Linked DNA regions of Homo sapiens: region 2 is linked to region 1. A link means that fine-mapping ties the variant in region 1 to the expression of a gene that starts in the linked region. Tissue or cell type: sigmoid colon. Region 1 holds a variant in brackets; the other region holds the start of a gene. All regions are shown on one strand. Distances are from middle to middle.

The links. PIP is the estimated chance that this variant, and not a neighbour inherited with it, causes the effect.
Region 2: it holds the start of SLC5A6, and the variant in region 1 is fine-mapped to the expression of SLC5A6 in sigmoid colon (GTEx, PIP 0.95).

What each region holds. Positions count from the first base shown.
Region 1 is chr2:27,133,694-27,138,835 of GRCh38, reverse strand. It overlaps PREB (prolactin regulatory element binding), which reads left to right and starts at 4,200. Exons shown (of 9, transcript NM_013388.6): 1 at 4,200-4,549; 2 at 5,115-5,142. The coding sequence starts at 4,415. PRR30 (proline rich 30) reads left to right here. Exons shown (of 3, transcript NM_178553.4): 3 at 142-1,988. The coding sequence starts at 507. The coding sequence ends at 1,745. RefSeq lists enhancers at 4,262-4,311, 3,787-4,443 and a silencer at 4,382-4,481. The variant C/A (reference allele first, on the strand shown) is at 2,103.
Region 2 is chr2:27,209,224-27,214,365 of GRCh38, reverse strand. SLC5A6 (solute carrier family 5 member 6) reads left to right here and starts at 2,098. Exons shown (of 17, transcript NM_021095.4): 1 at 2,098-2,346; 2 at 2,833-2,899. It overlaps ATRAID (all-trans retinoic acid induced differentiation factor), which reads right to left and starts at 2,325. Exons shown (of 7, transcript NM_001170795.4): 1 at 1,899-2,325; 2 at 1,068-1,189. The coding sequence starts at 1,997. RefSeq lists silencers at 1,902-2,151, 2,342-2,661 and enhancers at 3,444-4,241, 4,196-4,255.

The DNA of each region.
Region 1 (5,142 bases):
GAGCATTTTGCCAGTTCTTTTGATCCCAAAGGTGACATGGATTTAAAGTCTTGGTGAGTTCAGCTTGGAACTGGGGATATGAGGCAGAGCCAGAAATGGACCAATTCTCCCAATGTCTTGGGTTCTCTCTTTTCTCTCCAGGTCCTATGGGCTTTGTCTTCCTCTCTGCCCCACCCAGATAATCGCTGCTGCCCCTCCACTCCCAAGATGCAGCTGTGATTCTCCATCCCCACACATCCCTCATCAATGGTTGACTGCAAAGAAGTGAGAAGCCAAGCTTAGATTCATGCTCATGCCTGAACACCCTGAGAGCCTGGTGCTGGAGGGCTGGGTATCCCCTTGGCCTGCCACCAGCACCTGCACCCACACCAGGCTGGAGCCACGCTCTGCGCACAGAAGGTGGCCTTGATTTCTCAGGCACAGCTGACCTCAGAGATACTGGTCCTGACTCTGCCAGGTCTCTTATCCCTAGTCTTGTTGCCCCAGTTCCTTCTGGATTCAAGGCGATGTTGCCTCAAAACAAGGACCAGGTGCTGCCACAGACCTCAGTGCTCCCTGGGCGCCCCACTTGGGGCTTCTCACAACTTGTGGACTCCTCTCCTCACAACCTACAGCCTCTCTCTCCCCATCAGGGCCTCCCTCCCTCTCAACCACCGTTCTCTTCCACTCAGTCCCGTCGTCCCTCCTCCCCTCCACCAGCATCCCCCTCTCCTGGCTTCCAATTCGGCTCTTGTGACTCAAATTCTGACTTTGCTCCACATCCCTATTCTCCCTCTCTCCCAAGTTCCCCTACTTTCTTTCACCAGAACTACCTCTCTCTCCCCCGTCCACGTGCATCCTCTCCCTCCAACCACTGGCTGTACCCCTCTCCCCCTCTGACCCCTTCCTTTTCTCCCTCCCAGCCTCAGAACTCCTCCCTTCCCCACTCACCTTGCCAGTCCCCTTCCCACCCCGAGGAACTGCATAGCTCCACACTCACTTCCCCAGGCCCCAGCCCACCTTCTCATAGGCTCCACTCTAACAGGCAGACATGGCGCTGGCATCAGTACAGGGACACTGGGTCCGGGTCCCCTGGAGTGGTGGAGAGATGCGTGCCAAGCGAGAAGGATCCTGCACAGTTCAGGGACCCAGGGGCCCTGGCCCAGGCCCTGGTGGTCCAGCTGGGGCACCGCCGCATCGCACACGACCTGCGGCTACTGCTTTTGCAGCACCTGTGGCTAGGCAGAACCGGCCAGGCCCCAGTCGTGGAGTATCCTATATGCCTGGTGTGCCTCCGGCCCCGCAGCCCCTCCTGCCCCCTCCCCAGGTACAGGACTGGACCCCGGCTGCTTGCTTTCCCTCAACTACTGCCCTGTGTGCAGGGCCAGGAATCTGGGCCACTCCGGATAGGCATCGGCTTCGGCCTCCGCCTGCCTCAGGGCCAGGCCAGGGCCTTGCATCTGCTGCCCGAGAAAAGGCCGAAGGAAGCAGGGCCTCAGGGCAAGGCTACTCAGGCCTGTGGGCATCAATTGCCAGCATCTCAGCCTCCAGCAGCTCAGGCCCGGGCCGACCCAGTCCCAGGCACACCCTCCCAGACCAGGAGCTTCAGGTCTGCAGGCCTTCAATCACCAAACTCCCCACGATGTTTCTCCGGGCCTCCACCTCGGGCACCAAAACAGGTCACTACCTCCCTGAAGCCCAGGCCTTGCCCTGGCCCAAAGAGGCCAGTTTCTCTGGAGCTCATTCTCCAAAAGTCATCAGTCTAGTTCCAGAGCCACGGAGGCCCCCTGGAACACCCCCTCCAAACCCAACCCTCCCAACCAGGCCCCAGATCTCGGGGAGTCCCCGAGACACCCTGAAGGGCTGGCTGGCCGGAGGTCAGGTGTGTTCTCCTGCTCTGAACCCTGGGAGCCCCTTGTGGAGTCTGCTGTCTCCAGGCTGAAGAGGACCAAGGGCACCAAGGCCCCATTCAGCCCTCCGTGTATCTAATAAAGTCTGACCCTGTGAAACTTGTGTTTGCGTCCTGCTGAGTCCACAGAATAGGTGGCTGTAACTATAGGGGTGCCAGTCCCTAACAAGACCCTTGGTGGCGGGGAGGGGGTGGTTCATGCCTATAATCCCAA[C/A]ACACTGGAAGGCTGAGGTAGGAGGATCACTTGAAGCCACGAGTTTGAGACCAGCCTGGGCAACATAGCAAGACCCTGTCTCTCCAAAAACAAAAATATAAAAAAATTAGCTGAGTATGGTGGCGCGTGCCTGTACTACCAGCTACTCAAGAGGCTAAAGTGGGAGGATCACTTGAGTCCAGGAGTTCAAGGTTGCAATGAGCTATATCATGCCATTGCACTCCAGCCTGGGTGACAGAGACCCTATCTCAAAAAAAAAAAAAAAAAAAAGAGGGCATGGTGTGGTTGCTCATGCCTATAATCCCAGCACTTTGGGAGGCCAAGGTGGGCATATCATTTAAGGTCAGGAGTTACGAGACCAGCCTGGCCAACATGGTGAAACTCCATCTCTACTAAAAATACAAAAATTAGCTGGGTGTGGTGGCGGGTGCCTGTAGTTCCAGCTACTCAGGAGGCTGAGGCAGGAGAATCACTTCAACCTGGGAGGTGGAGGGTGCAGTGAGCTGAGATCAGGCCACTGCACTCCAGACTGGGCAACAGAGCGAGACTCCGTCTCAAAAAATAAAAAAGACCCTGGAGGGTGGTGTCAAAGGAAACGGAGAGGCCAGAAAGAGCAGGTGCCATGTATCCAAGGAGGACAAGGGACCCACAAGGCCTGGGGACTTGAGATATGCAGAGAGCTTGGCCAGGCCCTTCACACATCTAATTCAACTCTGTGGGACAGATATTGGCATCCCCAAAGATGAAGCCACTGCGCTATTCCTCTGGGTGCACCTTAGGTTAATGAGAATGCAGGAGAGGGCGTCTCTTTGCAGGGAAGGACATCCCTTGTGCTCGCTCTCAGGAGTGCACAAAGGTCCTCATCAGATCAGAAACCCGAGGGAGAATGGAGTGTCAGGCGCAGAAGATACCTGCCCGGGAGCCAAACTGCCCCCTCTGAGGCCAGCAAAGCAGCTGGCCACCCACCAAGCCACCAGCCCAGGAGTGTGAAGCCTTGAGAAAGGGAATGGCAGACACCACCCCTGCCAAAAGTGGGCGATAGGCGTTAAGGATGACAGACGTGTCCTCATACGAGGAAGCAATGGATTCAGCATTTGAAGTCAGGTTTATTTTTAAGTTCATGCTGCCTCCGTTAAGAAGCAAGAGACTCCGGTGGTTTCTGGTGTGTGCCCTCGGGCAAATCACTTCCTCTCTGAGGTAAGATGCAAAGGCCTGTGCTCCTAGGAGTTGGCATATCACTCCTCAGATGGGAACAGTCCTTATTTGAGGATTTTATGTGTGTGAGAGACAGGGTCTAGCTCTGTTGCCCAGGGGCTGGAGTGCAGTGGTGACATCACTGGTGGTCCAGCGCAGCCTCGACCTCCCAGTCTCAAGTGATCCTCCCGCCTGAGCCTCCTGGGCACCTGGGCCCACAGGTGCCACGATGTTTGGCTAATTTTTAAATATTTCGTAGGGACGGATCCCCATGTTGCCCAGGCTGTCTCGAAAGCCTGGGCTCAAGCCATCCTCCTCTCTCGGACTTTCCGAAAGTGTTGGGATTACAGGAGGATTACAGGCATGAACCACCGTGCCTGGCAGAGGATTTTTTTTTTTTTGAGACGGAGTTTCACTCTTGTTGCTTGTTGCCCAGGCTGAAGAGCAATGGCAATGGCGCGATCTCGGCTCACTGCAACCTCTACTTCCCAGGTTCAAGTGATTCTCCTGCCTCAGGCTCCCGAGTAGCTGGGATTACAGGCGCACGCCACCACGCCCTTTGTATTTTTGGTAGAGACGGGGTTTCTCCATGTTGGTCAGGCTGGTCTCGAACTCCTGATCCGCCCGCCTAGGACTCACAAAGTGCTGGGATTACAGGCGCGAGTCGGATTTCTTTATTAAAGGTTGACCTTCATCAACCTCCATTGGCTCCACCTCCTCCGCCCGCGCCCCGCGCCCCGCACAAAAATGGCGAAGTCGGTGCTGGGCGACTCTGCCTCCGCGCCAGGGGTGGAGAACCGAAGCCCCGCCCCGGGAAACGCGGCCCCGCGGCCGGCTAGTGCTGACGCGTGTCGGCGCTCCTGCGCCTGCGCGGAGGGAGCCGCGAGACAGGTGCGCATGCGCAGTGCGCGTCTGCGAGACCGACTTGGACGGAGCCGAGCTGAGGCTCGGCTTCCTGCTGATGGTCAGGGTTTTGGCAACTCCCCGGTGTGAGAGGGGTAGGGAGTGCTCCCGGCGGCGACGGGGCCGAGTTCACCAGCCGCCGGGGCAGTAGTCGAAGGCCCGGCGCGGCATGTCCTGGGTGCCGCGGTGCGGGCAGTGAACGCGCGCCGGGCGGGATGGGCCGGCGCCGGGCGCCAGAGCTGTACCGGGCTCCGTTCCCGTTGTACGCGCTTCAGGTCGACCCCAGCACTGGGCTGCTCATCGCTGCGGGCGGAGGAGGCGCCGCCAAGACAGGCATAAAGAATGGCGTGGTGAGAGCGCAGGGCCACTGGGGCTGGGTCTTGCTGCGGGCTGGCGGCGATTCCAGGGTGGCCGGGGGGTCGCGGGGCGGGCCACACTCCAGCTTCGGGCCCTGCCCACTTCTGTTGGGAAGACCCGCTTGCCTGACGCCCAGGGGCGAATTTCAGTCGAGAACTCAGCGGGCGGAGGAGAGGCTTTTAAGGTAAAGTGAAAACTGCACACAGCTGCAGAGTCGCCAGGAACGCTTCAGCTCCGCCTCAGAGCAGCTCCAGGGGTCTTATACTGGCCTTTTCCGGGAGGTCTTGCCTGCCCTCTAGCAGCGGCGAGAGTGGTGCATTTGGGTTTAGGCTAAGTTCCTTCCCTCTCCTGAGCTTCACCCTGTTCTGTAAAATAGAGGTAATAATCCCAGTCCTGCTCACTGTGTAGATTTGTGAGGCCCAAATGAGAGAAAAAAGACTCGAGAAACCCTTGTGAACTAGAACGTGCAGAAAGCAAAGGGGTAAGACATCAGACTCTTCCCTAAACGTGCTCTCTGGGCACCCCTGAACTTGCTCATCCGGGTTCCCCCTCCCACAGCACTTTCTGCAGCTAGAGCTGATTAATG
Region 2 (5,142 bases), 76 kb before region 1:
TGTAAACTGCTGGACATTAAGGATCATGCCACGTTATTTTTTTCTTCAATATCTACTGCTATCCATTCCTTTATTCTACAAATATTTACTGAGTCCCTACAAACTGCAAACACTGGGAGAATGTTAAAAATATGTAACACAGTATTTTGGCCTTTGAGTGGCTTACAATGTAGTTAGAGGAACAAGAGCACTGCCCAAAAATAAAAGCACTGTAAACATTAAATTACAATATAAAAGAAACCACAGGACAGTGTATAAATATATTTGAGTGGACACTAAAGATTACAGGAAGTTTTTAAAAAAGGTATTACTGAATCGCTTGAACCCAGGAGGTGGAGGGCGCGGTGAGCCGAGATCATGCCATTGCATTCCAGCCTGGGCAACAAGAGTGAAACTCCGTCTCAAAAAAATAAATAAATAATAATTTAAAAAAGGTATTACTCTGGAACTTAGTAGTAGTAAATATTCACAAAAGATGTTGGAATTGAAGGATGGATATTTCCTAATTTGGTAGAGGAAGGCAATTTCAGGTATGGAGAGAGGCCTGAACAAAGGTGGAATGCCTTTGAGGGCAGGCAAATCTGGCTGGTGCAGACCATTATGGAGGTTTGAGCGGACAAGTAATTGGAAATAATGTTGGAAAAGTGGGTTGGGACTAGTATGGTACTTAATGGTTTGAATTTTGTCCTGAGACAAAATTTAATACTAAATATAGTATTAAAGCAAGAGAGTGATAATGGAAAATGTTGGTTTTCTAAAAGCTTAATACAGAGAAGTATTTAGGTAGATGAAGGAAAGAAGAGAATGGAAGCAAAACATAACATTTTGAGTTTGAAGTTAGGGTGCACTCAGTAGGAAATGCTTAATAGGAAGCTAGAGGTACCCGTATGTACCTGGAGTGTGGAAAGGTTAAAAAAGACACTAAAGAGATCTAGTTTTGGTAGACATCTGCGTGATGATTACAGCTGAAACCATAATAGGTGGATTCTTTAAATAATATAAGGGTATAAAAGCAGCCAGGCTAAGGAATGGCCTGTATCCAGCATCTAGGGATGTCTTCCCCTCACCCCAAGATGGTGCCCTTCTGATTCAGGCAGCAACGGGCATGCAGCATTAGCTCTCGTGTCGTTTTACAATAAAAGGCCACTTTTGACAAATTTTGCACGCTCCCTGGACATTGGGTGCATATCTGCAGAAGAGAAAGAAACATTAGAACTCCAGAAAGAAAAGCCAAGAAAAGAACAAACGGCGATCAAGAATTAACTGCCAGTACACGTTTCCAGAATTCCTCTAACACGGGGCCGATAAATGGATAAACGGCTCGTGTCCCACCCTTGTAACAGGCTAGGCTAGGAGATGCCATCTCTTCCTCCAGAGTCCTGCGCCGAATCAGCTCCCGACACTTTCAGTACCAGATATCGCACAGGGAAGGTCCTCATCTCTGAAGATCACTATTCGAACTTATTTATTATGCTTTCTGCAGAGACTTCTCAATCTGACAGCCCTAGTTTGGCGCGGTGTAAAACGACCGCAGGTACGTAAAGAACTCATCAAGCATTACAAAAGTACAGCCCTACCACCGCACGATATATGGCGTTCGTGCGTAGAGAGATTACACAAGAGGCAGAGGACCCGTCTGTAGAAAGAACTTAAAGTTATTCTAAAATTAAGGGGCGAAATCAAGTTTCACAGGTCTTTGAAAGTCGGCAGGACTGGGGCGCCGAAGGCCTGCACGACGTGAGTACTTGGGAACAGGACCTGGCTGGGCAGGGTCGGGAAGCGTCAGGGACGAAATCAGAACCGCAGGCCCGCCGAGGAGAAGGGGGAGCCGCTGGCGAGCGCGACGCACGGCTGGCCAGCGACCCTGCTTCAGCCCGACCTCAAACTTGCTTCTGTACCTCGGGTAGCGCCAGAGCCCTTTCCACGCCCAGAGCGAGGAGCAGGGCGGCAGCCCAGGGCACCAGGGTCGTAAGACTACCCGGGTCGTGAGGCGCCATTTTCCGTTCCCTTGGTGCTCCGCTGCTCGCGCGACCCGGCCCCGCGGCCCCGCCCCGCAGCGCGTCAGGCCCTCTTCCCCGGGCGTGGCCTAAGCGGCCCGGTCCAGTCGCCCTGGGGCTGCTTGGGGGCTTTTCCTGCTCGTGGAGCTCTGCGCTGGTCTTCATGCGCCCTAGCCCTCTTTCGGGGATACTGGCCGACCCCCTCTTCCTTTTCCCCTTTAGTGAAGGCCTCCCCCGTCGCCGCGCGGCTTCCCGGAGCCGACTGCAGACTCCCTCAGCCCGGTGTTCCCCGCGTCCGGACGCCGAGGTCGCGGCTTCGCAGAAACTCGGGCCCCTCCATCCGCCCTCAGTAAACATGGCGGCACGGCGAGCGGGGCGGGCAGGGGGCGGGCAGGGGGCGGGGCCCCCGCGGGCTCCCGGCCAGGGCTCTCGGCCGGGCTCTGGCTACCCACGTGTGGAGACCGGGCAGGTGGGCCTGGAGAGCGTGAGCCGGTGCCGAGAGGCACCGGGGAGCGGCGTCTGAGCCGGGGCGGGGACAAGGGGGCGGGGAGGGGCGGAGCGAGCCGGCCTCCGGCGTGGGTCTGAGATCTTAAGTGCGAGCGGTAAGGTGGTGGTCTCCGCCGCGTAGAGGGAAGCGGGAAACCGAGAAAGAACGAGGGTGAGGGTGATGAGGGAAGGGCAAACCTCAAACTCCAGCGGGAGGACACGAGCCTGGATCGCCCCGGGCACCTAGTCCTCTTCACCTCAATGCTGATAGCGCATAGCGTCCCGGAGCCTGGCGAGGAGGTAGGAGCGGGATAGACGCTTCCCTAACTCATTTTCTTTGCCTTCCCAGGAAAAGGGAGCGATGTTGATCTCAGGAAGCACAAAGGGACCTTCCTAGCTCTGACTGAACCACGGAGGTAAGGGAGTGCGTTGCTGCCCCAGGGTGGGCCAGCGCCCTGACTGAAGGGCGCCAGGGGATCCCTGCTCCCGGCGCGACAGTGTTGGTTAGGGCCAGCCAGAAAGCTCCTTAAAGCCGACCCAAGTGATCATCTCGAGTAGCCGAGCCAGGCTTCCCTTCCACATTACCCCCATGGTGTCTGCCTGGAAGTTCCTGAAAGGTTTACGTTTAGCTGGCTGGCAAATTTTCTAAGGTGTTAGTAGCTATTAGCATTTTAAGGAGGGCCCCCAAAGCCTTTCACACCTTGAGGAATTATAGGCCCCAGGACAGATTTTGAGGGAATCTTTTTGGAACAGTTAGTCCTGCAGTGGTCTCATTGCCTTTTGTAGGAGTCAATGCGATCCACTGCAGTGTGTGACCAAAGTGAGTTCAGGTTTTTATTTTTATTTTTATTTTTATTTTGAGACGGAGTCTCGCTCTGTCGCCCAGGCTGGAGTGCAGTGGCGCGATCTCGGCTCACTGCAAGCTCCGCCTCGCGGGTTCACGCCATTCTCCTGCCTCAACCTCCCGAGTAGCTGGGACTACAGGCGCCTGCCACCACGCCTGGCTAATTTTTTGTATTTTTTAGTAGAGACGGGGTTTCACCGTGTTAGCCAGGATGGTCTCGATCTCCTGACCTCGTGATCTGCCCGCCTCGGCCTCCCAAAGTGCTGGGATTACAGGCAGTGATGTGGGACCCCTTTTAAAAACCTGAACTTGGCCTGGCGCGGTGGCCAGGCCACCGATCCGCCAAGGCAGGTGGATCGTCATGTCAGGAGTTTTGAGACCAGCCTGGCCAATATGGTGAAATCTCGTCTCTACTAAAAATACAAAAAAAAAAAAAAAAAATTAGCTGGGCGCGGTAGCACATGCCTGTAGTCCCAGCTACTCAGGAGGCTGAGGCAGAAGAATCACTTGAACCCAGGAGGTGGAGGTTGCAGTGAGCCGAGATCGTGTCACTGCACTCCAGCCTGGGCGACAGAGCGAGACTCCGTCTCCAAAAAAAAAGGGGGGGGGGTCCCACAATCTGCTGTTTGTGCCTTGGCATGTTATAGTTGTAGTGAAACAACAGCTAGCTCTTGCTTTTGGCCGCCCTCTTTCTGGAGAGATGCGAGACCATAGCGTTTGGATCAATGTAGGGTGTTTAGAAAACTACAGATCTGTTCTCAGAATCTGGTCTGTTGCTAGGTCAGGTTTTTCCTGTCTTCCCTGGGGCTCTCTCAGGCCATCCAGGGGAATTCTCCATACATCATGCAAATAGAATTTTATCAGGAAGTCCCATCAGCAGAGTGTCTTTATTTCTGTACCTCCGTGTCCCATACTGGGACTTTCCTTCCTGTCTCTGGCCACCTACCTCTCTAAACCACTAACCCTATAGTTAGTTCTTTGTTCTGTGTTCTTTGCACACAGGAGACCTCTTCTTTCCTCTTACTCCCCAGTAGTTCCCATCATCTCTATCATAGCAGTAAAAACTTGCCAAAGACGAATGAGAAAACTCAGGGTGTTGCAATGTGCAAAGGCCCAGGGCATGTTTAGGTTAAACCAGAGTTTAAGCCTGTTGGGAATCTTGTAGAACATGTGATCCAAGAGTTGCCAGGTCTGATTTTCCCTCTTTATTGGCCCCAAGAGGTTCAGAGTTCAGGTTTAGTCTGCATGAGGCCATATCTTGCCAGCCAGCCAGTGTCTGCCCAAGAACACACTGTGGGAGAGCGGAAAGGCAGCCTAATCTTTCTCCTAGTGGGCAAAAGCAGAAGACATAGTTTATGTTAGTCTGTCTCTTGATTAGTTGAAATCTAAACTATGTCCTGTGAATGACTGACTGCAACACTCTGCTCCTGTCCTGGTTCTGGGAATAGTGAGGACAGGGCCCTTGCTGAACACCTGTCATAGCTGCAGACAGCACTGTTTCTCTCTCTCTTGTTTTGTATCATGCTGCATAACCTTGAGCAAGTTATTTAATCTCTCAGTTTTCTTGTGTTAACTGGAGAGTATTCGTGTCTTAATCTGAGACATGCTGTTTTGAAAATGTTAGCTTCATTATGTATTATTACTAATGTTTATAAAGCACCTCACACACTGCTGGGTTACATAGCAGGTGTTCAGCAAATGTTAACTGTCGTCATGTTAGGCTGTGTAACTACATGGCATTCTCTGGTGTTTTTTCCTCATACCAATAAGTACCCCAGAGGATTGCCTTTGAAGACAATATGATACGCTTGGAGA